Regions from separate parts of the Homo sapiens genome. Here all the other regions are linked to region 3. The links come from fine-mapping of genetic effects on gene expression. A gene starts in region 3. Each other region holds a variant in brackets. All regions are shown on one strand. Distances are between the middles of the regions.

Region 1 (10,035 bases), 61 kb after region 3:
CTGGGCAGCATAGTGAGACCCCCGTCTCCACACAAAAATACAAAAATTAGCCATGCATAGTGGTGTGTGCCTGTGGTTCCAGCTACTGGGGAGGTTGAGGTGGGAGGATGGCTTGAGTACAGGAGGTGGAGACTGCAGTGAGCCAAGATCGCACCACTGCACTCCAGCCTGGGCAACAGAGCTAGATCCTATCTCGAAACCAAACCAAACCAAACCAAACCAAACCAAACCAAACCAAACCAAACCAAACCAAACCAAACCAAACCAAACCAAACCAAACCAAACCAAACCAAACCAAACCAAACCAAACCAAACCAAACCAAACCAAACCAAACCAAACCAAACCAAACCAAACCAAACCAAACCAAACCAAACCAAACCAAACCAAACCAAACCAAACCAAACCAAACCAAACCCCGAAAAGATTGTGTTAGAAAGCTACACTAATGAAAAGAGTGGTAGTATCACATAAATTGACAGATTAATGGAACAGAATTATAGGTAGTCTATAAAATGTAGTCTGTTACATATAGTATAGTGAAGCTGTTATCACAAATTAGTATAGGAAGGATTATCCAATAAGTGCTGCCAAAACCATTGATTATTTGGGGGGAAAAGTTAGCACTTCACCTTATATGCTAAAATTAGGTTGTTTGTTCATGCTTTGTCTTTTGTTCAATAATTATTTTTCTCCTATTATGTTCAAGCCAGGTTAAAGTATAAAATTAAAAATAATATTGAAAAGGGGATAACAGTGTAAGCCTAAAGTTACTGGAAAGGAAAAAAGTCCATAAATTTGACTACATAGAAATTAAAAATATCTGCAGACAAAGGAACAAAATAATACAGAAAAATTTTTATAACATATGCCAGATGAAGGGTTGATATCCTCTACCTATAAAGAGTTTATACAAGTTGATCAGAAAATAGTAAAACCTGATAGAAAAATGGGCAAAAAACATTCATAGAACAAACATAAGTGCTGAAGAAGTATACGTTAAAAAATCTACCCTCACTAGCCAGGCATGGTGGCTTATGCCTGTAATCCCAGCACTTTGGGAGGCCGAGGCGGGTGGATTGCTTGAGTCCAGGAGTTTGAGACCAGCCTAGGCTACATGGTGAAACCCCATCTCTACAAGAAAATGCAAAAATTAGCCCGGCATGGTGGCACGCACCTGTAATCCCAGCTACTAGGGATGCTGAGGCACAAGAATTGCTTAAGCCTGGGAGATGGAGGTTGTAGTGAGTTGAGATTGTACCACGGCACTCCAGTCTGGGAAACAGAGTAAGACCTGCCACACACACACACACACATAGAAGTCTACACTCACTAGTAATCAGGCCTCCCTCATGAAACGTGATACCATTTTTTCCCTGTTTAATAATTAATAATAGGCAAAGCAATTTAAAAATTACAATAATGCTTGTATGCATACCTTGAAATGAGCACTTTCATACAATGCTATTGAACGAATAAGTAATTTTTTTTTCTGGAAAGCAGCTTGGCAGTCTGTATCAAAAACAACCCTGAACAACAAATATATCAAGCCCCTTCCTCCTTCTTCAGAGCCTTGAAAGTGCTATTCCGTCTACCTGGAATGCTCTTCCCCATCTCTTCCTAGCTCATTCCTTCTCACGTTTTAGGCTTTCTGAAGCCCACCTCCTGCAGGCAGGCTTCTATGACCTCAGGCTAGATCAGATTCTCTCTCTCTTTTTTTTTTTCAAAGCCTGATCCATCAGCCAGTGTTTTGGAAGCCAATTTTGGGGAGAAGGCAGAAGGACCCACTGTTCAGTATGTAAACTTCCACTTAATTCCTCTGTTTTATTTATGGTGCTCCTACCCTCAATTATGCCTGGCATTTCTCGATTTTTTTTTTTTTTTTTTTTTGAGACAGGGTCTCGCTCTGTTACCCAGGCTGGAGTGCGAGTAGCTGGGAATACAGGTGCACACCACCACACCTGGCTAGTTTTTCTATTTTTAGTGGAGATGGGGTTTCGCCATGTTGGCCAGGCTGGTCTCGAACTCCTGACCTCAAGACATCCGCCCGCCTCCGCCTCCCGCCTGGGATTACAGGCGTGAGCCACTGCACCTGGCTGCATTTCTCTGTTTTATCCTCTCCAGAGAATAAACCTCCACCTCTTCACAGAGTTGGGAAGATGTGGTCACCTAGCTGCTCAGTGCAGGGATGGAATCCCCAGGCCGAGGTGCTTTCAATGAACTCTCCTGTTTTCAGCTCCACCCCAATTCCCACTCAGAGGCAGTTTGTGCTTTCATTTCTTGTAATTTGTGCTTTTCTGTGTTTCTGAGTCACCCACAATGAATCACTTTCACAATCAGATAAAAGCCCCTAAATTTTCTTTATTTAAGATTTCCTACTTTGTGACCCAGTAATTTTACTTCTTGGAATATCTTTTTCTTTTAAGGAAATAGAAATTTGGAAAACATTTAGGTACAGACATCTGCATCACAGTACCATTTATAGTAGAGGATGATTAGTTGCAAACATCCTAAAAATCCAATATCAGGGTCATGGTTTAAGTAGGCACTGATAAAGCCTTTAAGTGGTATTTCCAAAAATATGTTCTTAACGACATGGGAAAAAACTAATGATTTATCATAAAATGAAAAAAGCATAATATAAAATTGTAGGTATATCTTTACTAAGATTTTATTTTAAAATATGCATGGAAGAAGGCTGGAGGGAATTACTTCTGAATATTAACAGTTGTTGCCTCTGGATGGTAGGATCTCATTCACTGTCTACAATGATCATGCATTATCTTTATAATTCAAAAGAATTTATATATATGTAAAGGAGGAGAAAATAAAAAAAATTATAATCTTAGGTTGCATTAAGAGAGGTAGAAGTTTTGGGGCAAGAGAGGCAATAATCTGGATTCGGACCAACTGGAGTGTCGTATCCAGCATACAGGGAGGGTGGCATATGTTAAGAGGAAATTAGGCCAGGCATGGTGGCTCACGCCTGTAATCCCAGCACTTTGGGAGGCCGAGGCAGGTGGATCACCTGAGGTCAGGAGTTTGAGACCAGCCTAGTCAACATGGTGAAACCCCATCTCTACTAAAAATACAAAAATTAGCCAGGCGTGGTGGTTCACACCTGTAATCCTAGCTACTGGGGAGGCTGAGGCACAAGAATTGCTTGAACCCAGGAGGCAGAGATTACAGTGAGCCAAGATCCTGCCACTGCACTCCAGCCTGGGCAACAGAGGGAGACTTCGTCTCAAAAAAAAAAAAAAAAAAAAAAAAAGAGGAAAGTAAACAAATTGCAGGTTGGCCAGAGACTTCTGGAAATCAGGATTATCTGGAGGAATAGGAGGAGAGCAGGCTCAGGCTGAACCTGGTGGCTGTCTGTATGTGGCTGCAGTACTGTTTGGGAAGGACAGAACTGGGTGTCCTGTGGCTCTGGGATCAGAGCCAAGTCTGGAGAGAGATTCTTAAAGGTGGAGAGAGATGTTCTGACAATCCTGTGATGGATACCTCTTCCTGCAAACGTCAATAGTCATGCTGAGGTTGGTGTGAAAACGAAGAATCCCCAGTCAAGGAACTGGAGGTGATAGAACCATGAGGCTGGCAAGCCAGTGGCCAGTGAGCCAGCATGTTAGACTGGGAAGAAGTTTTGACATCACCCAGCTTGACAGCCTTGTTTATGTGCAGCCCGTGATGTTCTCATGCTCCCATCCGTCATAGATAAGATGACCTTGGGTTATGCAAAATTCCCAGTGCACTCCACATAACCCCATCCCTGTCTTTCCTACTTAGGAAGGCAATGTGAATTTAAGCGACTGGAATTAATCTTATTGTAGAAACAACCTTGACTTTTTTCTGATTCATGCGAAATAGCACATCACTCATGAGTTTCAGATCAATGATCAGTGACAGGTTACCACACGCAACGCTCCTCATACCTAATTGTCACATACGTGTTTCTCATCCAACCCTTTCATTTCACAATGGGGAAATTGAGGCCTAGAGAAGGGAAAGAGCCATAGTCAAGTGCGTATGAGAGGTGTGAGGTAGGAGCCAAGTCTCCTAACTCCAAACGATGGCTCTTTCTCTAACTGAGAGCCACTAGCTGTCAACTTAGATTTTGGTTGGTGGCAGCAAGGGATAGGCTGGTGAGAGGAAGAAGGAAACAAAGGAAAAGAAAGGTGTGAACCTGC[C/T]GTGTTTCATCCTAGTGACATCACCAAGGAGATGCCTGCGTCCAACAAACCTAGCATTCTCCAGAGCCCCGTGCCTGACCAGTGCTTGGAGGTGAGGTGGGGCCACGAGGGTGGTGGTATGGGTTGAATGGTGCCTCCTGCCAGATATATTGAAGTTTTAACCCCTAATGCCTCAGAATGTAACCTTATGTGGAAATAAGGTCTTTTCAGAGGTAATCAAGTTAGATCAAAGTCATTAGGGTGGGTCCTAATCCAATATGAGTGATGTCCTTATAAAGAGGGGAAATTTAGACACAGAGACACAGGTAAAGGGAGAACACCAGGTGAAGATGAAGGCAGAGATGGGAGTGATGCGTCTAAAAGCCAAGGAGTGCCAAAGATTGCCAGCAAAACACCAGAGCTGGGAGAGAGGCCTGGAACAGTCTCCCTCACAGCCCTCGGAAGGAACCAGCCCTTCGGATATCTCGATCTCAGACTTCTGGCCTTCAGAACTGAGAATCAGTTTCTGTTGCTTAAGCCGTGCAGTCTGTGGTACTTTGGTACAGTAGCCTTGGCAAGGGAATACAGGTGGGATGGGGCTTACAGCCACTCTTCTCTCCATAAAGTCTTCACCATACCCCCAACCCAAATGGTGTGATCCCAGCCCCATGACACTGTCCTCACTCTTAAACCCCCAGCCCATATGTGCTTGTGTTTGTGTGGCCGCCAGTCTAGGACCCAACTTGTCTTGCCAAAGGTCCAAGTTCCTGAGCCCCAGCCTGACCCCGGCTCTGACACCAAGCTCAGAGTGGGTGAGCTTTGAGGGAGGGGAAGGATGCCATTTCTGCTCACTGAAACCTTTCTTCTCCTACCTTTCCAAAGTAGGAAAGGTTGGGGATAACAGAAACACCAAACCAGGGCTCTGAAGCCCCTCAGGTAATGCTGGCTCTAACGCTGGCTTCTAACCTGCAGCCTCTGGCCTCTCACCCTGGCTGGAGGAGAATCTCTTAGACAGGGACCTCAACTTCCAGTGGTCATGGACTTCCAGTATGTGAACAGCCTCCTTTTTGAGGCTTTCAGGATTGAGCCCAGCCTCACTCAATCAAGCAGTGGTTCAGATCCCTGAGAGGTAGAGGTCATTGCCGGAGACTAGCTGGAGAAGTCAGAGAGCGCTTCCTGGAGGAAGAGCCTATGTTAGTCTGGCTGAAAGGTGTGAGCTTAATTTTACTGCATGACTACTGAGCCAGGCACAGTCACATACTTTCACTTATTTGGTTTCCAGTCAGTTGTGAGGCAGGTGATGTTATTTGCATTTTAGAGGTTAGAAAACTGAGACTCAGAGAAGCGAAATGATTGACTCCAGACCACAGCATTTAAATTCAGGGCCCTCTGGTGATAAGCTCATCTCACTCTTCCGCACCAAGCCCTTTTCCAGGGTCCAGTAGTATTTAAAGGATTTGTGGAGTTTCGAAGTGTGGGGGGCAGGGACGCTGCATGCTGACACAGGGGCAGGGTGGGAACATACTGGGTGAATCTGGGAGCCATGAGGAAGCTGGCCTGATCGATTTCAGCGATTCAGAGGGAACAATGGGAACCACAGCTGGAAAAGGAAGAGGGTCGTAATTTATTAGGCTGAGCATTCAGACTCGCTGGGTAAGCAGCGAGTGAGCGAATGAGCTCTGGATGAGGGGTACAGAGCTGGTGTTTTCAACACCCATCCTGATGGGAGAGGGGCCAACTTGCCAACCTGCTGTGAAGGCATTGTGGCTCTCAAGGAGAAGCATGTGGCCACATCAGAGAGACCCCCTTTCCTTCTTCAACCCTAGCCCCAGATGTCCCTGGGAAGGGAGGACAACCAGCTTGCCTCTGAGGGTCACTACCTAGTGCTCTCCCCTACCTGGGTCGCCTCCACATAGGTCAATTCTGCCAGCAGTGGGCCCATCCTCAGCCACGCCTCCTGTATCTAGGTGGCTCATCAGGACCTAAATGCCCCCTCAGCCTGTCAATCCCTCCTCTGACTTTGCACAAACAGTTTTCTCCGCTTGAATGCTCAGTGTTCTCTTTCCCTCCCCAGTGAACTCCTAGTCAAGACCCAGTTCAATTGTTCATTTTGTTTCTGCAGCCTTTGTGGCTCATTGGCAAGATTCAGTCTCTTCCACTTCTGTACATTGCCATTGTCCTCACTGAGGTCTGGGTGCATGGAGAGCAGATATGAAGCAAATCCTTCAGTTGCTTCTCCTGGTGGGCAGACTAGAAAGGGCCAAGGTAGGAAGGACTAGTGACCTAAACCTCCCTTCCCAAATACCAAGGATGAGGATGAGGTGGGATGAGTGCAGGGCCCATCTGAACTGGACTGCGAAGGGCTTGGCTGGCAGGCACGCTTGGAGAGCAAACCATCCAGTAAGGAAGCACTTTGCAGGGGGCAGTGTGGCCAGGGCGACGATGGGCATGGGGGAGGGAGGGCAAGGACGTTTATGCTTTGACCACTGATTAATGCGCTGGAGCAGTGGGGATGAAAAGAAGATAGTGTCTGAGGCATTTCAAAAGGCAGAGCATTTAGAAATCAGGGCTGTTGGAGGCAGAAGGTATGAGTTTGAGGGTTCAAGGTGTTGGCTGGAATCGGGGGTTATAGAGACCAAAGAGATTATACAGGACCAAGAAGTAAAGGAAGCCTGGGCAAAATAACTCTATCCCCCAACCCCCAGCACATCATGATAGCATCAATACACACCTACTTGTGATCAAGTCCTGTTTATTTCAGAAGCTTGAACAGTAGAACTAGGAAGGAGTGATGAAAACAAGGCACCAGTCCCCTTGACAGGGCCAAATCCGGCACAAGCTCTGTCTGTGCGATCAAGGCTGACCCAGCAGCCTCAATCCGCCTTTTCCTGTGAGGAGAGGGTTTGAGGACAACCTGCGCACAGGTGACTGTTCCATAGGGTGAGGTTGGGGTAAGTTGGCTCTGGGTTCCTCTGGATCAGCTGCAAAAGGCCAGAGGGCCCCCAGTACCCTTGGCCAAGAGCATTCCATGCTGACTCTGTCTGTGCTCAGGCAAAGCCACATTCTGGAGAGGAAGCCGTAGTGCCTGGTGGGCACCAGGAAGGCCTCAGGTGTTCAAGAACAACTTGCAATGAGGCTCCATGGCCAGCAAGCACCTGCTTCCCCAGCCCAGTCATCTCTGCAGAGCCTTCCAGGAGGGGGCAGGGGGCATCCCAGGCAGCCAGACTTCTCAGGACCCCTCTGTTGGGTGACATAAGCCACAGGCCTCTATACATACTGCTTCTTAGAAGCAGAGCTGCTGGGACGACTTGGGGGTTTTTGGCCATTCTGAGGGGGTGGGTCCAGGAAGAGAGGGGGCCTGGAAGACGCCAGCCTCTCCTCTGTGGTCAGGTTGGCCCAGTTCTGCTCACTGGATGAGAGCCCATTGTAGGTGGGGCATGGTGGGGATGAGGGCCCCTGGCCCACGGGGAGGTAGAAGAAGACCTGGTCCGTGTAAGGGTCTGAGGAGGTGCCCTGGGTCGGGGGTGCGTCTTGGCCTTGCCGTGCCCTCATCCCCCGGCTGAGGCAGCGACACAGCAGGTGCACCAACTCCAGCAGGTTAAGCACCAGGGAGATGAGTCCAACCACCAACATGAAGATGATGAAGATGGTCTTCTCCGTGGGGCGAGAGACAAAGCAGTCCACGAGGTAGGGGCAGGGTGCTCGCTGGCACACAAACACGGGCTCCATGGTCCAGCCGTACAGGCGCCACTGGCCATAGAGGAAGCCTGCCTCTAGCACACTCTTGCAGAGCACACTGGCGACATAGGTGCCCATCAGTGCTCCGCGGATGCGCAGGCGACCATCTTCTGCCACCGAGATCTTGGCCATCTGACGCTCTACGGCCGCCAGCGCCCGCTCCACCTGTGGGTCCTTGGCCGGCAGTGCCCGCAGCTCCCCCTCCTTCTGCCGCAGCCGCTCTTCTCGCCGAGACAGGTAAATGACATGGCCCAGGTAGACCAGGGTGGGTGTGCTGACGAAGAGGAACTGCAGCACCCAGTAGCGGATGTGGGAGATGGGGAAGGCCTGGTCATAGCAGACGTTGGTGCAGCCTGGCTGGGCCGTGTTACACTCGAAATCTGATTGCTCGTCACCCCACACTGACTCGCCGGCCAGGCCCAGGATGAGGATGCGGAAGATGAAGAGCACCGTCAGCCAGATCTTACCCACCACGGTCGAGTGCTCCTGGACCTGGTCCAGCAACTTCTCCAGGAAGCCCCAGTCACCCATGGCTCCCGGGCCTCCGTCTGCAAGGAGACAGAGCACGTCAGTGTGTCAGCATGGCATCCTTCTCGTTCGCCCAGCAACAAGCCTGCAGGGAGGTCTGCCACGCCCGTTCTACCTACAAAGAAACCCAGGCTCAGGAAGGGGAAGGACTGGCCTGGAGGCTCCCACTCAGCAGTGCAGGCAGGACCCAACCCAGATTTTTGGATGATGGCTGCCCACCTCTTTGTATGGTCTCATTCTGCTTTGGCTAAGGTCCCTGCCTAATCAGACATCTATGTCCCTCTTGTCCCCGAGCCACTGCCCCAGGATGGACACAGGCCAAGGAAATCTGGGTGGAGTTGAGGCTCCTTTGCCTATGGGAACAGAATTTGAGGAACTTATCCAAAGTTGTGCAGCTGGGCTAAGCCCTTCCTCCCTTTTGCCCAAGGCTGGCTACCCCCAGACAGTGGGAGCTAGTGATGATGGTAGAGGTGTTATCTTCTGCTTCTTAGGGGGCTCAAAGCCTCAGGTCCCTGCTCCCCGCCTCATATCTTACCCAGCTGGCTTCACTCTAATCTTTGAGCCTGCAGGGGCTGGGTAGTGGAAGGGGTTTTAGGAGCTGAAGGCAGCATCATCCTTTAGCTCCACCGGTCAGCAATAATGACCACCTGCCACTTGAGGAGGGACATTTGGTCCTGTCTTCTTCCTCCACCTCCACTCCCACCCCCTTCCACCTCCAAAGCTGATGCTGGCAAATTCTAGACTCTTGAAAGGAATTGTCATTGCAGGGTGAGGCACAGGCCACAAAGTTCCCAAGGGGGAGGTGCCTCTTCCCAAGTGCAAAGCTGTTTAGAGCCAGGCTCTGGAAGCGGCCCTGGGTTCAAATCTTGCCTTTTAGTAACTGCGGCCCCTTGGATAAGGAACAACCTCTGGGCCCCTCAGTCTCCTCCACGATAGAGTGGAAACAATAGTATTCCTCCCGCCTCGGGTTGTTACAAGGATTCCATGGAAAGAGGGTGGGAGCCTGGCCAAGGCCACCTGGGTGAGCGCGGCTCTGTCGCGGCGGGCGTTCCGCAGCAACCCCCGTCCCGGCATCGGAGGACCCAAGACTCCTCCCGGCCTCCCGCGAGCAGGTGGCGCCCCTGGTCCCTTCCTAGCCCCCGACTCACCGCCTGCCTGCCGGGCGGCCCAGGTGGAGGTGGGGACGATGGCCGGAGTGACGCCCGCGGGAGCCCTGCTGGACCGCACGAGCGGCGGGGGCGCCTTAAATAGCGCAGAGGGGCGGGGTGGGGGCAGGAAACGCGACGGGGAGGGCGGCGGGCGCTGGAGAGAGGGCGGGGGCGGGGACTGGGAGGTGCAGACTCCCTAAACCCACTCCGGGGAGGTGGGCCTGTGTGATTTGCGGTGGGGAGGGGCAAGAGGGGCTGACCTACCCTTCCTCTCCTCTGTTCTCTCTCCACCAGGTATTCCAGACAGTAAACTCTCCTGTCGTTTCTTTGGCCAGGGAAGGAGAGTTCTCCCAGGCCAGGATCTCTCAGGGTGGCTGGATTTGAAGGGGTTGCAGTAAGGGCTGTGGATCTGGGCAACTGGCCTGCGGGGCTGTGAGGGGTGGGCGGATGGGGATGGAGT
Region 2 (10,035 bases), 130 kb after region 3:
CTCCTGCCTCAGCCTCCCAAGCAACTGGGATTACCAATGCCCACCACCACACCCGGGTAATTTTTGTATTTTTAGTAGAGACAGGGTTTCACCATGTTGGCCAGACTGGTCTCAAATTCCTGACCTCAAGTGATCCACCCGCCTTGGCCTCCCAAAGTGCTGGAATTACAGGTGTGAGTCACCGCGCTTGGCCCATGCAGCCTGTTTTCGTTAGAACCACTGTTAAATAGTCTCTGAGAACTTCTTCGACTTCCGGTGTCCTGTTCAGGAGCTGTACCCGCATTATCTCATTGACTCCTTCCTCAGACCCCGCAAGGGCAGTATTGCTATCTTTACAAAGCCCGAGCTCAGGAGGCAGCGCCCTTCCCTGGGACGTGCCTGGGCCACTCTCCTGCTACCCTGGCTGAGCAGAAGGGTGAGATTTCCCCATAAACATTAGGAGAACATTAGGAGATGCATCAAGCTGCCCTAGAAACTAGGCTCTAGTTAAGTGCTTGAAAAGTAATTATAAACTCCAGAATATCTTTCAGCCGAGCAGGTGGCTGGAAAATTAGAAATCTATTTCTGAGACACCTTCTGCTTTCCAGAAAGGCTGAGGTTATGTTTCAGGCAGGTCAAGTGCTGGTGGCCTCTGTTGGGGGGGTGGGTGTGTGTGTGTGTGCACGACTGCATGTGCATGCGGGGTGCAGCACCGAGGGGCCAAGGAGAGAGGAGACGCCAGTCTGGGGGTGTAGCTGTCATGCCTGCCCTTCCCTGGCACTCTGTGCAGTGTGGAGGCGGCAGGCGCCTCCTCTCTGGTGTCACCCCTTGAGAGCTGGGTTGCTAGGACACCGGAGCCGAGGAGATGCCAGTTGATTTGCCAAACAATTTTTCTTCCAATTAGGAATAATTAGACAAAGGGAGAAAGTGTGTGCTTTGATGGTGGCAAGAGAGGCTTGGAGCTTGGGGACCCCGAGGAGCTGTTAGGGTTTCGTGGCTGAAGATGGCTAGGAGTGTTGCCCCACCCCTGGGAAGGAGCCTCTTTCTGGCCCGGTGGCACCCAGCCTGGGGGAGAGAGGAGGAGATCTCACATTTATTAAGTGTCTACTACATGTGTGCAGCCCTCTTTCATACTCACGATAAGCCAGGAAGAGGGACTAGGATCGCCTATGGTCTCTTCACTGCTTGCAGCCACACTGGGCTCCCTCAGTTCCCAAACTTCTTGGGATTCTTGCACACGCTCTTCTGTCTGCCCAGAATGCTTGCTCTTCTCTATGCGGCTGGCTCCTTCTGACCCTCCAGGTGACCGCTGTTATTATCCACAATAGGCCCTCACCCAGCTTTCTCCCCAAAGCCCCTGGCTACCTCCCTGCGTGGTGCTCATTACGGCTTGCGGTTATTTTATTTGTCTGGTCACTTGTTTTCTTGTCTGTCTTCCTAGCTAGAACATCACATTCGTGAAGACAGTGTGTGGCACATGAAAAGCTCTCAGTAAATATTTGTTGAATGAATGAATGAATGAAGATCTCTGTTCAAAAGGAAGCGGAGGCTTAGCGAATCTGAAGTTCTTCCTTATGGTCTGTCCCTCAGTAAGGGGTAGAGGGATAGAGCCAGGCCGTCACCTCGTGTCCCCCTCGCTTTCAAGCTGGCTCTCTTCCCATGGCATCACGCTGCCTGCAACCTCTGTTTGCCTGCAAACAGACAGGCGCGGCCTCTGTCTGTTTCCCTCTCTCCAAAGAGGCCTGCATCAAGGGAAGGCTGCTGGTCCTCCAAGTGCCAGCAATGGAGCAGTGCAGGGTAGTAGTCCCTGGAGTCTCCCTGTCTGGGTTCAAATTCCAGATCTGGGCTGGGTGCAGTGGCTCACGCCTGTAATCCTAGCACTTTGGGAGGCTGAGGTGGGGGAATCACGAGGTCAGGGTATCGAGACCATCCTGGCCAACATGGCGAAACCCCGTCTCTACTAAAAATACAAAAATTAGCTGGGTGCAGTGGCGCACGCTTGTAATCCCAGCTGTTTGGGAGGCTGAGGCTGGAGAATCGCTTGAACCCAGGAGGCAGAGGTTGCAGTGAGCTGAGACCATGCCACTGCATTCCAGCCTGGGAAACAAAGTGAGATTCCATCTAAAAAAAAAAAATCCAGCTCTGCCTGGCTGGGCCTCAGTGCTCCTGGCTATAATGTGGAATGAAAACAGAACCCATTTCTCAAGGGTCTTGTGAGGATATAATGAGATAATACACGTGGAATGTTTAGAGCAGTGCCTGGCACATAGGAAGTGCCTCCTATGATATAAGTTATAGGAAAAACTGGGGTGACAGACAGCTCTGATCCTTCCTGCTTGTGTCAGTGACACATAGTGGGCCAGATGATGCAGCCCTTTAGGTGCCTGATATAAATTATTCATCTTGGCATCCGGGGCCCCAAATTCTTAAGAGCTCCACTATTAGGAAGCTGAGAGAAGCTAGCCAATGTGAGAGAGCCCAGTACAGTGTCTGGCACATAGTAGGTGTTCAGTAAAATGGCAGTTGAACCACTCTTGAAATAGCCGGGCCGAAAGTCCAACTGACTGTCGAAACTGTCCACCTGGGTGTGCCATTGGTCCCTCAAATGCAAGAATAAAAATAGCTACTGAATTTCATGTACTTTTAACTATTTGAAATTATCCTATGTAACTCATTTACTACCTGTCTCTTCCCACTAGAATGAAAGCTCCAAGAAAGAGGGATTTGTCTCCTTTTTCATTGCTCTTTTCTCCATGCCCAGAGCAGTGCCTGGCTCATAGCAGACCTTCAAGAAATATTTGTTGAGTTAATTGCCCTCATGTCTGTTATGGATCCTGTATTAGATTCCTATTGTTGTAACCAATTGCCACAAATGTTATGATGTAAAACAGTAACATATTTAATATCCTACAGTTCTGGAGGTGAGAAGTCTAAAATGGGCCACAGTTTGTGTTCATTTTGGAGGCTCTGGGAGATCATCTGTTTCCTTGCCTTTTCTATCTTCTAGAGGCTTCCCGCAATCCTTGGATTGTGGTTCCGCATCACTCCGACCTCTGATTCAATCATCACATCTCCTCTGACTCTGGCCCTCCAGCCTCCCTCTCAGGCCACTCAGAGAATCCAGTAGAAACTCCTCATCTGAAGATCCTTAGCTCAATCATACCTGCAAAGTCTCTTTTGCCCTATAAGGTAACAGTCACAAATTCTAGGAATTAAAATGGGAACATCTTTGGGGGGCTGTGATCCTGTCTACTGCAGGCCTGATACCCCATCTGTTCTTTCTGATGATTTATTCTCTTTCTGTCTACATTCTTCTTTCTCCCCTATCCCACTGCCCCACACCCCTGGCCCCCCCAGGCTCCACAACATCAAGGGTTTGCCTCCATGGACAGACCATGGTTTCTGTTCCCAACAGCTCTTCACTCTGAACTCTGGGAGTGATAAGGGGATTCTAAGACTTCTTAACATTTAATATTTGGGAGTTCTGGTACACTGTAGTGTTGTTATGCACTGAAATGCAGGCAATTTTTGTAGTACCAGCATTTTTTCAGTATTTTAGAAACATCTGAATCACAGCTGCCTGAAGTCTACTCAGAGAGGGATATGCTGCACTAAGATTTCCAATTAAACAAAGGTGTATTCATGTATAAGGCATGCTGAGCACCTCCTGGCCCTCATTGAGACCCTTCCAAGTCCTCTTAATGTTGTTTTAATTCCCTCACCCTGGGCGATAGTGAAGATGCAGAGCTGGATGTCTTCCCCCTGTTTCAGCCACTGTGTTCCCTTTAGAGCCACTTTGGGTCTCTGATGGAGTCTACCTGGGATCAGGTGGTGGAGAGGACTTCAAAGAAAATGGGAAGAAGGTTTGGTTAGGGGACTTAGGAGAGAAGAGAGTGGAAAAGGTATAGGGAGGTTCCCCAGACCCAGTTCTCAGCCTTCCCCACTCTCTTCACCAATTTACTTAACCAACCCTCATTAAGAACTTAACATGTGGCTGGGCGTGGTGGCTCACACCTGTCATCCCAGTACTTTGGGAGGCAGAGGTGGGTGGATAACTTGAGGTCAGGAGTGAGGTGGGTGGATCACTTGAGGTCAGGAGTTCAAGACCAGCCTTGCCAACATGGTGAAACCCTGTCTTTACTAAAAATACAAAAATTAGCCGGGCGTGGTGGTGCACACCTGTAATCCCAGCTACTCAGGAGGCTGAGGCAGGAGAATCGCTTGAACCTGGGAGGTGGAGGTTGCAGTGAGCTGAGATTGCACCACTGCACTCTAGCCTGGGTGACAGAGTGAGACTGTCTCCAAAAAAAAAAAAAGAACTTGACATCTTAACATGTGCCAGGCAACTTTCTAAGCACTTTATATATATTAAAGAATTTACTCTTTAAAACAACCCATTGAAGTAGGTATTATCATTAACCCTGCTTCACAGACAAAGGCACAGAGAGGATAAACAACTTGTTCAAGGTCTCACAGTGATGAACGGAGCCGGACTGGACCCAGGCAGTTTGGCATCAGAACCCATGAATTCACCACTGCACGCTGCTGGATTTTGCCTGATAGCTAAATTCCCTCTGATTTCCTCCTCCTTCTTCCTGAGCCAGCTCTGATATGGTTTGGCTGTGTCCCCACTGAAATCTCATCTTGAATTCCCACGTGTTGTGGGAGGCACCTGGTGGGAGGTAACTGAATCATGAGGGCAGGTCTTTCCCGTGCTGTTCTCATGACAGTGAGTAAGTCTCA[T/C]GAGATCTGATGGTTTTAAAAAGCAAAGTTTCCCTGCACAAGCTGTCTTCTCTCGTCTGCCACCATGTGAGATGGGTCTTTCACCTTCTGCCATGATTGTGAGGCCTCCCCAGCCACATGGAACCGTAAGTCCAATAAACCTCTTTCTTTTGTAAATTGCCCAGTCTTGGATATGTCTTTATCAGCAGTGTGAGAACGGACCAATACACGCTACTTCCTCATGGGCCCTGCTCCTTCCTCCCTGATAATTTATTCTGGCCAGGACCTTGCCCTCCATCATTATACCTGGAGAGACTGAAGTCAGAAAGATGGAGGAAGCTTCGTTATTTATCCTGGCCCATCTCAGATAAAGCAGCATTTGAGGACCCCGTGTGGGTTCAGTGGTGATCATAGATTGCTTTTTAAAAAAATTAGTATTTTAGTATCATTTTAACGATTTATGGAAATACAGCAATCGGTTGTTTTGCTCCAGAGCTGCAGCCACTAGGTCAGAATCAGAGCCTAGTTAATCATGAGGCCATGGGGCAGTGACCTGGAGCACCCGCCTATATGGAATTCCACACATCTTTGGAATAAATTGCGAACTAACTGAGGTTTCCTCACCAGACCCTGTATGTGGCAAGTAGAATGTCAATGAGTCCTACTTCTGCAACACCCTCAAAGGGAACACTGCACAACATCTTGGACATAGGTTATTTCTTTTACTCCGAATAGCAGTTCTATGAAGTATGCATTACGATGTGCATTTTATAGATGAGAGAATTAGGCTCAAGGAGGCTCAGCAATCTGTCCAAAGTCACAGCTAGTAAAAGGCAGAGCTGGAGTGTCACCGTGGAGTTGGCTGTGTCCAGGGCTTGTGGTTTTAATGTCCTTCCTCTGCTGCCCAAGGAGATGGATAGTGGGGGAAGAGACGGCCCGCAACAGTTCCTCCTCCCTCTCCATCTCACAGCCAACGTGGGGCAAAAGTGCCTGCAGTGAACTTAGGTCTGTGGCTCATAATAAGTACTTGCCTGTTATGGGGGTGCAAGCATCATGATTGGAAGAAAATGTAAAGGAAAGAAGACAAGAAGTCTTCAAGAAAGAAGTGGCATTTGAATGAGGCCTTTGATACAGGGAAGGGCCTATCTCCATTTATGACTGTGCGCACATGAGTGGGTTCATTCACTTACGATTTCCTGAACCCCTACCATGTGCCAGATCCTATGCTGGGCACAGAGTACACATTAGTGAGTAGAAGAGGCATTGCCCTGCCCTCTGTAAGCTACAGTCTGTGGCAGCACTGTCCAAGGGAAGTTTCTGGGCCGATGGAAATAACTCACGGTGTTCAGTGCAGTAGCCACTGGCCACATGTGGTTACTGCAGGTTTGAAATGTGGCTAGTGTGACAGGAACTGAATTTTAAATTCTTTAAATTAATTTTTTTATTTAACTTCAGTTAATTTAAATCTAAATTTAAATAGTCACACGAGGCCAGTGGCTATGCTATTGGACAGTGCAAGTTTAGAGGGAAAGACAGACAGTAAACATAAAGAAGTGCTTATGGTGATAAGTGCTATGCAGGAGGCAAGATCCAGTGGATGAAAATAATGGGGAGTGTCCTATTTAGATTAAGTAATCAGAGGAGGCCTCTCTGAGGAGGTGACGTTTCAACAGAGACCTAGAAGATGAGTGTGGGCCATAGGAAGAGTCAGGGGCAGAGGGAACAGTGGGAGAGAGGCCCTGAGTAGGAGAGGGGTGGGTATACCTGAGATAATGCGAGGAGGCCAATGGGTGAGAGTGTCGTGGGCAAGGGGAGGGGATGCAGGAGATGAGGGCAGGGCATGAGGGGAGCAGGGTCTGATCACGTAGGCTTGTAGGCTCGGGTAAGGAGCCTGCACTTATGTAAAGTGCAATTGATGTCACAAAAAGGTCTCTTGCTCCGACTGCCACAGATTGTAGGTGGTAACAGTGGAAGCAAGGACCTCAGGGAGGAGCTATAGCAATGGCCTGGGGTTGGGGAGATGGGGGCACGGAGTGGAGTGATGGCTTTGGAGGTGAGGGAACTGACTGAACTCAAGACATACTTTCAAGGCAGACATGGCAGGTAGCCTGGCTGTGGAGGGTGAGGAAGTTGCTCAGGTTTTTGGCCCGAGCCACTGGGCAAATGGTGGAACCATTTTCAGAGAAGAGAAAGTTAAGAACAAAAAAATCAAGAATCCAGGCAGTCGGATGGTCATCCAGATGGTTGCTGAAGTCGGAGGGAAGCTGAGTGTTTATCTGATTATGTTGTGTCTCTGTGGGCTGAGCATGTGAGCACAGTCTGTGTGGGCGAGTATGCATTGATGTTTGTACACATTTTTGCTTTGGGTAAAGTATATGCATCCATTTGGGGTGGGGTGAGTGTGTATGCACATGAAGGTCTGTATTTGGATGACTGTATAGGAATGTCCGCACACATCCATGCAGGTGTGGGTGGGGTCAGTGTGTGTGAGTGTGTACCTCTGTGTGTGTCTGCGTGTGTGGTGAGAATGTCTGTCTCGGGTTCAGGGTGAGCCCAGGCCTGGTTTATCTCTGTGAGACGCGTATAAGTGAGGTTTGTGTGTATGCGTCTGTGTGTATGCAGGGTGAAGGCGTGTGCATGTATGTGGGGTGACTGTGTGCAAGTTGGTGTACATGTGTGGATGCAGCAAGTGCGTATCTTCATGCATGAGGGTGGAGCTGCATGTAGTTGCACACTTCTTCCTACATGAGGCATGAGTGTGTGTGTAGGGTCTGTGTATGCACATCTATTTGGGGGATCATATGCACAGACCTGTGTGTATCTGTCTATGGGGAGAGTGCATGCACATAAGTGTACAGGCATGGAAGGAGGATGTTCCAGGGATGGGTGTGTATGGGGGTGTGTGCCCATTTGTGGGCCTCGAGTGTGCCTGCCTGTCCCCTTTGAAGCTCCTGTGACTGCAAGTCACAGAGGCAGCAGCTTGCAGAGCGTGTTACGTCATGTTTATAGGTCTTTCAACCTTAATGCATTTTAAATTTCCAACCCAAGGTGATCCCAGTGGATGGCAGAACCATTTGTTCCTTGCTCTGATTTAAAAAGAAAGTTTCCAGAGTAGGATCCCTTCTGTCTCCAGCCTGGCAGTCCTGCCTGATTCTTTGACTCTTCAGTGGAAGGAGGACCCAGACGTGGGTCCCCAAACAGTGCAGGTGGATGGGGACATGGGAAGCGAGCTGGGGAGAGAGGCTCTTTGAGTGTGGAGAAAGCGGAGGCGTAGAGGCTGGAGTGGAATGGGAACAAGGAGGTGGGAAGAAATCAGACCCTCTCCTCACTAGGGCAGGCCCAGGACACAAAGGCTTGCAGACCTAGTCTCTTTTGCATACCCTCTTTCTTTCTTGTCTGCTTGAGGATTGGCACTGGGCCTTTTGCTTCTCACACTACACACACTCCATGAGCAACTTGACCTCTAGCTGCTCAAGGCAAACCCTGATACCATAAATCCCTTTCCAAGCTGCCCTGGGCACCTTCTGGGACCCCTCCTGTGTGCCTTTGTCTACCATGAGTGTCCACCACTTTCCTTTCATTATACTCCAAGTCGCTGTGGTGATGTCTCCTGTTCCTATTGAAGCCCAGCATATCAGCTGTGTCCCCCAGACAGAAGGGGCCACAACTCCTGCTTGTCACAATGTGTGCTGAGGGCCTGAGGGGCTGCTCCCAGCTCAGCTGCTTGCAGAGACCCACGGAGGTAGGAGAGAAACAACTCAAACTTCAACTTGTAAAGGTGAGGAGCTGGAGGCCACCTTGTGCCAGATCTCAGGGATGAGGTGGTTGGGGTTGTGCTGCAGCACACACCAGAGCTGGAGTGACACACCAGAGCTGTGCTAGAACCTCCTCTACGGTCATCTTTGGACCAAGTTTGGACCTCAGTTTTCCTTTCCCTTTGATGAGTTTTCCCTCCGTCATGGCAACAGCTCCTGGTGGGCCTGCCTCACCCCTTCTGCAGATGTACTAGAGTCCAAGGATGCACATAGATTGAACCCTGTGTCTCAGACCTCTGCATTCGTTGATACCGCCTCTCTGGTGATCTCACTTGCTAGCCATTTGGGTCTCATTTGAAACAGATATTTATCATAACACATTTTTCTGGCTTTGAGTCAAGCATGGGCTGGGTCTGGGGCTTGGAACTGAATGCCATAGGCGTCTCTTTCTTTACCGTTGGTCAGCTGTAGACTCACAGGATGGACCTCTCACCCCACCAAGGGATAAGCCTACAATCTGGGGTCTCCTTAACATCCTTTCCACCATGGGGCTTCCTGGACCAGGTCTTGTCATGTCCCTTGAACTTACCTTGTAGGAATTCTGTCTATGCCCCAGCTGGTAAGGAGGCAGGAGAATCATCAACAAAGACCTGGGGATGTGTCTTTTGGAAACATAAGGCACCTTAAAGCCAAGCTGATGAACCTTTTTTTTTTTTTTTTTTTTTTTTGACAGAGTCTCGCTCTGTCGCCCAGGCTGGAGTGCAGTGGTGCGATCTCGGATCACTGCAACCTCCACCTCCTGGGCTCAAGCTATTCTCCCATCTCAGCCTCCCTAGTAGCTGGAATTACAGTTGTGCATCACCACGCCTGGCTAATTTTTGTATTTTTAGTAGAGACAGGGTTTCGCCATGTTGGCCAAGCTGGTCTCAAACTCCTGGCCTCAAATGATCTGCCCGCCTCGTCCTCCCAAAGTGCTGGGACCACAGGTATGAACGACTGCACGCGGTCTTTTCTTAAATAAGAAAAATGGTCTTACTGTTTTCGTAGAAATAGTGTCTAACCACTGTGGAGTAGGACAGCTTGATGGCTAAGCACACGGACTCTGGAGCCAGGCTGCCTGGGTCTGACTCCTGTCTTTGCCACTTACTGGCTGTGTAACTGTAGGCAAGCTATTTGACCTCCGTGTGCCTTAGTATTCCAGTCCTGTAAGATAGAGGTAATAGCAGTATTCACTTTGTAGCATTGTTGTTAGGATAAGATGAGTTAACATATATAAGGGATTTACTGGAGTCTGCAGCACAGAGTAGGTATAATAGATGCACCTTCATTATTATTCTTGAACACTTTCAATGCAGAAGAAAGCAAAATTGACACCAAATGCTATCACCCAGGGGACCTTCATCCAGAAATCTCTCTTGGGGCTAAAACACACATAGTTTTATATAAATGTGATTTATGATATGTATTGTTCACATACCTTTTTTTCTACTTAACCATATGTCTTAGAGATTTTTTCATATCAGTCCCTATAGATCTACTTCATTCTTTGAAAATTAGTATTAATGAGCTACAATTTATT
Region 3 (10,035 bases):
TTGGAAAAGCAAGAGATGGTCCACGTACACACATGAGCCTGGAAGGTGAGGAGAACTCTAATGTGATCTGAATTCCCAAAAGCAGTCCGTTTGGAGGTGATCCCATACAGACTCCTGGGCCTGGTCCAAGACTTAGTGAATAGACTCTGCCCTCGAATAAGGTTTTAACAAGTGCTTCACAAGATTCTGAGCAGCCAGCTTTGGGAAGACTTAAATTGGATGACTGTCCAAAGGTCTCCAGTAGAAGGGCTGGGTCAGTTTACCTCTCTGAGGTTGTTTTATCATCTCTAAAATTGGGGGCATGGGTGAGGTTTGAACTCAGAGCAATGCTGTAAAACAGATATTGTTTTCACCCCCATTTACAGATGAGGAAATGGGCTTGGAGAGGTTTAAACAGCTTACCTCAAACCATGAAGCCAGGAAGTGGCTGAGTCTGAGTTTAACCTTTACATTTATACAGCATTTTATGGGTCTATGACTTTATTCATAGAGTTTTCCATGTCTGGTGTGGATGAGTCTCCTTTGGTTCTTGTGGCCTAGGTAGTTATGCTGAGCCCCATAGATAGTGAAAGATTAGGTCCAGTCCTTTTGCTTGAGTTGCTTACAGTCTGGCCATGGCCAGCATATAAACAGAAAGTTATGGTGCAAAGGGAAACCTGTTCTCCCAGAGGGGCCAAGGGATTGAGAGGAGAGAGCCTCTAGCAACCAGGGTGTTTTAGTCCATTTTGTGCTGCTATAACAATACCACAGACTGGATAACTTATAATGAACAGGTATTTATTGGCTCACAGTTCTGGGTGCTGGGGAATTCAGTGTCAAGGGGCTGGCAACTTGTGAGGGCCTTCTTGCTGTGTCATCCCATGGCAGGTGAGAGGGCAAGAGAGGGCAAGAGGGAGTTGAACTTGCCCTTTTATAAGGGTGTCAATCCACCCATGAGAGTGCAGCCCTCATGGCCTAATAACCTCTTAAAGGTCCCACCTCTTAATACAATGACAAATTTCAGTGTAAGTTTTGGAGGGTACAACCATAGCACAGGCAGTCTGGGAAAGCCTTCTGCCTTGTGAGTTGGATCTTGCAGGATGAATTAGCATTTTGTAGTCAAGGAAGAGAAGGGAGAAATTCATTTCTGGCCAAGGGACCAACCTGGGCAAAGCCATGGAAGCACATGTGTGTTGGGAATGAAAGCATAGGCTGGAGAGGGTGACAGGTTATGGTGGCTGTGGAGGGCGTGGAGGAGATACGGCCAGAAGGGACCCATAGAGTTGGGGGTGGGAGGCTAAGATGGAAACCTCATAGTTTTATTTGAAAGATGAAACTACGGCCAAAAGAAAGGAAATGGACTGGATGGGGCAACAAGACAGCAGGGAGACCATTCAGGGAGCTGCTAAAGTGGTCCAGGTAAGAGATAATGATGTTGACTTTGAGAGACATTTAGGAGGCATAAGTGCAGTAAGCTGGATCTGGAGAATAATGTAAAGATGGGACGCCTTGAAGGTGTCACTCAGATTTCTGGCTTAATGAATGAGTAATGCCACGAATGGACATAGGACATTACAGAAGGAGCAATACAGTTGGGAAATACTTAACATGTCAATAACCATTTACTGAGCACTGAGAAGGTGCAAACTACTATGCCAAGCACTTTATACACATTTAGGTGATTTAATACTCATAGCAACCCTAGGAGTGGGTACTATTATTGTCTTTTTTTAAAAACAAAGAGTGTAAATAGCTTTTCTGAGATAAGCAGACAAGAGTCAGGATTTGAACCCATGGCTATCTGATTTCTCAGTCTATGCTCCTGAGCCCCTCAGCAATTCTGCTTGAGGGAACTGCTAGCCATGACTCAAGACTCAGCTCAAGGCTTGGTTCCTCTAGGGAGCCTTCCCTGAATCTTCCTGGCTGGGCTGAAGATCCTCCTCTGTGCTGCGTGTGTATACTTCTGTCATCACATTTCTTACATTCTATTGACATTTTGTAGACCCATCTGTTTCTTTAGTCAGAGAACTCTGGAGGCAGGTTGGTCCCAGTCATTTTTGCATCCCCATTGCCTAGCACATGATTGGCTGACCAAATGCCAGTTACTCTGGACAGTTCTGTTCCCTTCTCCTCTCCACATATTCAGTTAGTGAGCAGGTTCTGCTAACAACGGTCTCCTAAATATTTATTTGTACTGTTGGGGCTCAGAAAGCGATACCCCAAAGACTGGCGCTTTGACATGCTGAGAGGCCTTCGAAGCTGCCTCAGAATCAAGGTCCCTCTAACCTTCTCTCCCAAGTATAGGGAGGCACTCTCTCTAGAATTTCCTAATCTGATCGAGAAAACGTCTTTCCAAAAGAAACAAAATTGCCTTCCTCCCCTCTCCGAAATCTCATCTAGCTCAGAAAAGAAGACTGAGGAAGGCAACTACGCCTGGATGGATTTTTCACAAGATGATGCCTGTTTCTCGGGCTCATTCAAATTCTAAAGAGAATCATTTACAAGTTAATTTCTGTCCATTTTTTCGCCCTAAGAATCACTTGCTGCCCTCAGAAGAATTGTCTATATTCTCCATCTCTCCCCTTCCCCTATGAAAAAGAGTGTATACGCTTCTGTACCCCATTGGGTTATTGGGTAATCATTCTCCTGTGACCCTTCCCTTCCCACCCCCTCGCCTCCCCGCCCCGTGCTATGCACGTTAAAATAAAATTTTGTATGTCTTTTCTCCTATTAATCTGCCTTTTGTCAGTTGATTTTCAGTGAACCTTGGCCCCTACAATACTGTTCCCTTTTCTCCATCTTCACTGCCAGAGCTTAGCTTTGAGCTGTTTGAGATAATAGAGGAAGGGTGTCTAATGTGATAAGCAGTCTATGTATGAGGCTTCCTCTGGAGGTGACCCTTAAGCTTGAAAATTGTGCCAGAGCACAATCTGGCATAGTAAAGAAAGGTGGGAAGGGCACTACATGGCCAGGCACGGTGGCTCATGCCTGTAATCCCAGCACTTTGGGAGGCTGAGGCGGGCGGATTGCTTGAGCTCAGGAGTTCGAGACCAGCCCTAGCAACATGGTGAAACCCAGTCTCTACAAAAAGTACAAAAATTAGCCAGGCCTGGTGGTGTGCATCTGTGGTCCCAGCTACTCGGAAGGCTGAAGTGGGAGGATCACTTGAGCCCAGGAGGTTGAGGCTGCAGTGAGCTATGATTGTGCCACTGCACTCTAGCCTGGGCAACAGAGCGAGAGTCCTGTTAAAAAAAAAAAAAAAAGCGGCCAGGCGCAGTGGCTCACGCCTGTAATCCCAGCACTTTGGGAGGCCGATGCGGGCAGATCACCTGAGGTCGGGAGTTCGAGACCAGCTTCCCCAACATGGAGAAACCCCTTCTCTATTAAAAATACAAAATTAGCCGGGCGTGGTGGTGCATGCCTGTGATCCCAGCTACTCAGGAGGCTGAGGCAGGGGAATCACTTGAACCTGGGAGGCGGAGGTTGCGGTGAGCCGAGATCACGCCATTGCACTCCAGCCCAGGCAACAAGAGTGAAATTGAACAACAACAACAAAAAAGGTGGGAAGGTAGATGAAAAAGCATCAATAAGGCACTGAGGTGTGAAACAGTGTGGTCTGCCGGGTTTAGTATGTGCGAGCAAAATAAATATGCAGGCTGAGATTAGTGGGATGAGGGTGGGAAGGGCCTTGTGGGAGCATTAACAAGCTTGAGCTTTGGGACTTTTCTGTATATGATAAAATTGATGTCTGTATAGGGTACAGTGGGGACACAGAGGAGGAAGTGAATACTTGTACCCAAGAGGTCATGTAAGACTTAGGTTTTACTATATTTGAATTATTTTTACACTAACAATAGCCACATTTATTTCCCTGCTGGCTGTGTGCCTGCCACAGTACTTTACAAATATTATCTCTTCCAACCCTCACACCATCCTTGCGAAATGGGTGTTATTACCTCTACACAGAAGGGGAAGGGAGGCTCAGACAGGTTAATAATGTTCCCAAGGTCACTAGAAAGCTAGCCCGGATCCCAAGAGGTCTTAAAGCACTAAAATATACTCTTCTAAGAAGAGCTTCTTGAGGTCAGGGATCATGTCTTTTGTTTTTGCGTGCCCAGACCTAGGTCTTAGAAGACGCCTAATAAACATCAGTTGAAAAAAATGACTGGATGATCTTTCACTTTTTCCACGCAGAAAACACGTGGCGACATCACTGAGAAACCTCCCGGCCAACAGAGGGCGCGACGTCCATTTCAGCGCAGTGGGGCCCAGTTGCGGACGCCTAGCTTCCTTCCGTCCTTTGGCTGAAGTTCAGCCAATCCCTGCGCTCCGAGAGAGCCGGCGGCCAGTGGGCAGGGTCACAGGGCAAGGTCCCGCGGGCCGCTGGGTGCGGCGACTTCCGTGCTCCCGGCGAGCGGGCGGAGAGCGGGGGCCGCACTGGGGAGTGTGGGCTGGGCCGCAGGTGAGCGCGCGGTCCCGGCGAGCAGGTCGGGTCAGCCCAGGCCAGTAACCTCTGAGTTACGGGAGGAGTGATCGCTAGGGTCCACCCCGGTCCCGGCCAGATCTGCCAGCTCCCCTCTCTGGCGGGTGTTCTGGTGCCAAGTCTGGGAGCCCAGGTAGCCCTCCGCAGACAGGGCTTCTCGGCACCTCAATGAGGACGGACGTTGATGAGGCCATGAATGAGGTGGGCTAGGGACAGGGGACCGGGAGACTCACAGAAGGGAGAAGGGTAGCCATTTGGATGGACCTTCGCCTTACTTGCGCTCCCATTCCTGGACTGCGCTCTAGTGACTGTCAGGGCTAATTCTTCCGCCTTCTCAGGCCTCCTGTGTCCTTGTTAGTAGTTCTTGAATTTGGGACTACGGCTTCTGGCCTCGTTGGGCCTCCGGGCCCTCGCACTGGGGCAGGTTTCCCAGCAGCCCAGTTGACCTTTACCGGATGCTTTTGGCAGACGTCCTCCATGCCGGGCTGGAAATATGCGTCACAGTGTTTTTCAGACACTTTTGCCTCTTTCATTGTGATACCCTGCCTGGGGACGACTATGATGGAGTCTTTAGGTTTTTGTAATCAGCAAAGGCATCTGTTATGCTCCTGCCACCTTTTGGGGGAGAGTGGGTGGAGGATGTTGTGATTTTACACTAGGGAGTTTGGGCTGTCATTCATTCGTTCAGCAGACCTTTTTTGGGCACTCTGCCAGGCAGGGTAGGAGAGGTGCCTGGATGGATAGGGCATAATTGGGCCAGACAGACACGGTTCTTAGCCTTTTGGAGCTTAAAGTGTCTTGAGAAACGCAGACAGGGTAAGCCAGCATCGTGCCTGACACAGAGTAAGTGGTTATAAGTGTCGAATAAAGGAATGAATTGACTTATTTGGGAATGATTAGAATGTGAGCAGGACGGTAGCGAGAGACTTTATGCTGCATGTGAGAGATAGTTGTGAACTCATGCGCGATATGTTTTAAGACAGGTTTGGAAATCTGAACGGACAGTTGCTATTTAGGGAAGCATTTACTTATACAGAGGACTTGCTTTAAAGGTGGAAGTAAAATGGAGAAGTATTAGGTTTGGGATTCTTCAGAGGTGCCTCTTTTAACTATTACTATGTCTCTGAATTTCATAAATCCCTGAGTACAATCTCAGAGTTTGGGAAAAGGAAAGCTCTTCTAGGTAATGAAATGCCAGGCTGATGGGAAAAAACTGTAGGAAGCTCTCCCTAAGTCCAGGGTTTGGACAGAAACCGTATACCTCTGCAGTGTGTTCTTCCCACTAGAAAGAGTGTAGGCTTTGAAATTGGAGAGGCCTGGGTTCAAAATCAGTGGCTCTATCACTTCTAGTGATCTTGGATAAGTTAACATAATGTCTGTGAGCCTTTGTGGCCTTCACAAGAGTCTGGGCTAATAATTCCTACATCATAGAGGTGTTATGAGGATCAAATGATGATTAGTGTGTAAATTGTCATCATAGTGCCTGGTGCTGAGACAATAAGCGGGGGAGTCTTGGAGATGCTGCAATTTTTTTTTTTTTTTTAAATTTCATGATGCTGCCTTATTGCAGGGGTCCTTAACCCCCTGGGCCACAGACCAGTGGTGGTCTTCAGCCCATTAGAAACTGGGCTGCACAGCAGGAGGTGAGCGGTGGGCAAGCTGGCAAGCATTACCGCCTGAGCTCCACCTTCTGATAGATCAGCAGCGGCATTAGATTCTCACAGGAGTGCAAACTCTATTGTGAACTGCGCATGTGAGGGATCTACGTTGTGTGCCCCTTATGAGAATCTAATGCCTGATGATCTGAGCTGGAACAGTTTCATCCCGAAACCATCCCTCTCCAACCCCCATCTGTGGAAAAATTGTCTTCCACGAAACTGGTCCCTGGTGCCAAATATAGATTGGGGACCGCTGCCTTATAGTGTTACGTCTAGAGAACATTGGGATTCCTTCAAAGAGAATTGGAACCAAAGAGAGAGGGGGAGAATCATCTTATCCTTGGTGAGGTTTCGATTGTTCACTTTAGATCAGAGATAGTAGTGTTGGAGAAATACCTACAGGGGCATAAACAGAAAGATCTTTTAGTGGATACTTTTGGGCAAGTCTCTTAACCCTCTGATAGTGGGTTATGTATCTACCTCACGTGGTGGACATGAGGATTAAGAGAGTGAGTGTATATGAAGCACCTAGCCCAAGGCCTGGCATGTAAGTGCTCAATAAATGGTAGCTGTGTTATTATAACTGTGAATGATCTTTGATAATTGATAATGGTAATAATCATTTGAGATGGAATTGGCCATTAGAGTGATCCAATTTGTGTGTTTTTACATTACTTTGGTATTGCCCTACTTCAATTCAGGAGGCCCTGAGGCCATTCCACTCCGCTCCCCGCCCCACCCCACCCCACCCCACCCCCCGGGCTTGTACAGTGATTTTTCACAGAAAATCTTCAGGTTCTGCGGTATCCAGAGTATGTATAATGATTTGTGATATTTTCAGGAGCTTTTTATGTAAATATGAAGGTATGGGTTTGGTTGAAGATAGGATTTTTTTTTTTTTCTTGAGACGGAGTTTCGTTCTGCCGCCCAGGCTGGAGTGCAGTGGCTTGATCTTAGCTCACTGCAACCTCCGCCTCCCAGGTTCAAGTGATTCTCCTGCCTCAGCCTCCTGAGTAATGGGGATTACAAGCCTCCCAAAGTTCTGGAATTACAGGTGTGAGCCACCGTCTTTAGCCAAGATAGGATATTTTGAAAATGGTTTAGTCAGCAGATTTGTAAAGTATAGGTTTGTTCCATTGTTAGAAAAGCCAGGTTCAGAACAGGATAAAACCATTATCTATTTACCTAAAATCCAGAATAATTAGGTAATGCATTATGTATTTGACTGTTTAAATATGCTCCTTATGCTTTACATGAGGAAAAGGAACGACTTTTCATATTGTGAAACCAGGAGATTCATCGTAGATTGTGTTTCATGGGGAAAAGGTGGCCGGCTGTGCTCATGGAGAAATTTCATAGAGCAGAGAAAGGCATCTTTTTCCCTTCTTGAAATGTTGGCAGACTAGGTCCTGGGGTCAACAATAGGCTTGAAGCTCTATTAGGTAAGGCTCAGAGGTCCCCTTGTGGGGAACATTGTCATATATTGGTGCACACTTGTCAAAGAGTACGGTCCGTAAAATGGAGATCCTTCCTTCTTCCCTAACAATGGAATCTTTTGAAATTTCCTAGATTATTTCAGGGATCCACCTCTCGCATTGCTCTGCACGGGGGTGGGTGCTCAGTAAATTGTGCCAGGCTGGCCAGGTGTGGTGGCTCACGCCTGTAATTCCAGCACTTTGGGAGGCTGAGGTGGGTGAATCACGAGGTCAGGAGTTCAAGACCAGCCTGACCAACATGGTGAAACCCTGTCTCTACTAAAAAAATACAGAAATTAGCTGTAATCCCAGCTACTTGGGAGGCTGAGGCAGATAATTGCTTGAACCTGGGAGGTGGAGGGTGCGGTGAGCTGAGATCGTGCCACTGCACTCCAGCCTGGGCGACAGAGCAAGACTCCGTCTCAAAAAAAAAAAAAAATTGTGCCAGGCTGCCTGGTAAGTGGAGAGCTCTAGTGGGTTGCTCTTATTTGGTGGGAGATGATGCTGGGTTCTCTAATGCTGCCTTGTGCTTTTCCGCAGATGTCATGTGGCCTGTGTTTTGGACCGTGGTTCGTACCTATGCTCCTTATGTCACATTCCCTGTTGCCTTCGTGGTCGGGGCTGTGGGTTACCACCTGGAATGGTTCATCAGGGGAAAGGACCCCCAGCCCGTGGAGGAGGAAAAGAGCATCTCAGAGCGCCGGGAGGATCGCAAGCTGGATGAGCTTCTAGGCAAGGACCACACGCAGGTGGTGAGCCTTAAGGACAAGCTAGAATTTGCCCCGAAAGCTGTGCTGAACAGAAACCGCCCAGAGAAGAATTAATGGAGGACACAGGGCCCTATGGTCCTACTGTGGGTGGTGACTTGTCCTGCTACCATGTTGACAGAGCCCCAGAACCCACATCTAATTGGCTTTGTTGCTTATTCTGGCCCTTCCCACACCACACAGCCACACAAATACTGGCTGCTCCTTGATGGCCAGGCAGACCCAGCAGCAGCCGAGGGGCCAGTGAAGAGGAAGGCCGCATCTGTTGTGTGGTGGCCACAAGCACTCAGGCATCTGAGTTTACTGGTGCACTGCTGGGAGGAGAGTTATGAGATGAACATTGGCTGTCAATCTCTGTGGGCAGGCGGTTTGGCCTCTAGTGGGAATGGCTGGGATTTGGGCGTTGCCTTTAGGAGGGATACCTGCATGTCTAGTTCCAGTCTGCACTGGAAAGAATTCAAATATGCACCTGGCTCCCTTCACTATTTTGCCCTATCCTTTGTGCTCATTCTTACTGAAATCTGTCTTGTCAGCTCAGGAATGGGATTCCCCCAGGAAGGAAAGCACTTTTCTGTTCTGGGAAGCCCAGACTGTTCACTTTGGGGCAGGGACGAACATGTGCCTCGTGAATTTGCTTGAAAACAGTCACCATCTTCTACCCCCATCACTGTATAGTGAAAAACCTGATTAAAGTGGTATCTGAGAACCATAATGATCGAATCTTATCATCCAGGTGGTATTTGGGGGTCTTCTTAGGAGTTAGGCAAGTACAGGCATTTTAGAGCAGGATAACATTGGTATTAAAGGGTGCCAAGGAGCCCTGGAAACTGCTTTACTAGTGCGGTTGCACTGAACCCTGGAGGCACAGATTCCCAGGAACCTTTTTACCATTATTACAATTGGCTGCAGCACCTTCAAGTCTAAATGGAGGTAGACCTCACATACACACACATAGACGCCTTTCCCTATAAAAGTATATACGCACATTCAAGAAAATTTGGTAGGGATTTTAAAAAGGTCACCCATGTTCCCAGCTCGTTAATAACAACCGTTAACATTTTGTTGTCTTTTACTAATTCTCTGCATAGGTTTTAGAGATAGTTATCATTACTGTACATTTAATTTTATATACTTTTCTCACTATTATCATTTTCCCATTTTACATGGTCATCATAATTGGTTTTTTGGAGACAGGGTCTCACTCTGTCACACAGGCTGGAGTGCAGTACAATTACGGCTCAGTGCAACCTTGACCTCCTGGGCTCAAGTGATCCTCTCACTTCAGCTCCTCAAGTAGATGGGACTACAGGAGTATGCCACCATGCCCAGCTAATTTTTTTATTTTTTTGTAGAACCAGGTCTCACTATGTTGCCCAGGCTAGTCTCAAACTCCTGGGCTCAAGTGATCCTCCGGCCTTGGCCTGTAGTTTCTTTTTTCTTTTTTTTTGGAGATGGACTCTCATTCTGTCACCCGGGCTGGAGTGCAGTGGCGTGATCTTGGCTGACTGCAACTTCTGCCTCCTGGGTTCAAGCGATTCTCCTACCTCAGCTTCCTAAGTAGCTGGGATTACAGGCGTGCGCCATCGTGCCTGGCTAGTTTTTGTGTTTTTAGTAAAGACAGGGGTTTCACCATCTTGGCCAGGCTGGTCTCGAACTCCTGACCTCAAGCGATC

Alleles and levels. Alleles are on the strand shown, and positions count from the first base shown. SD is a standard deviation of normalised expression in the study named. Not every link is listed here.
For the expression in nucleus accumbens of the gene that starts at base 4,369 in region 3, T is the high allele of the variant in region 2 and C is the other (moderate effect, 0.52 SD a copy in GTEx).

Evidence for each region. PIP is the estimated chance that this variant, and not a neighbour inherited with it, causes the effect.
Region 1: its variant is fine-mapped to the expression of SMIM12 in testis (GTEx, PIP 0.94).
Region 2: its variant is fine-mapped to the expression of SMIM12 in nucleus accumbens (GTEx, PIP above 0.99). The same link has a PIP of 0.9 or more in caudate and putamen.

The regions. Positions count from the first base shown.
Region 1 is chr1:34,792,609-34,802,643 of GRCh38, reverse strand. It overlaps GJA4 (gap junction protein alpha 4), which reads right to left and starts at 9,645. Exons shown (of 2, transcript NM_002060.3): 1 at 9,576-9,645; 2 at 6,897-8,447. The coding sequence starts at 8,430. The coding sequence ends at 7,429. RefSeq lists an enhancer at 2,310-2,359 and a silencer at 8,228-8,382. The variant C/T (reference allele first, on the strand shown) is at 4,183.
Region 2 is chr1:34,727,653-34,737,687 of GRCh38, reverse strand. No RefSeq gene overlaps it. Among named protein-coding and RNA genes, the nearest start is that of GJB5, 22 kb to the left of the region's middle. The variant T/C (reference allele first, on the strand shown) is at 4,723.
Region 3 is chr1:34,854,083-34,864,117 of GRCh38, reverse strand. SMIM12 (small integral membrane protein 12) reads left to right here and starts at 4,369. Exons shown (of 2, transcript NM_138428.6): 1 at 4,369-4,441; 2 at 8,136-10,035. The coding sequence starts at 8,141. The coding sequence ends at 8,419. RefSeq lists a silencer at 4,418-4,547 and an enhancer at 9,597-10,035.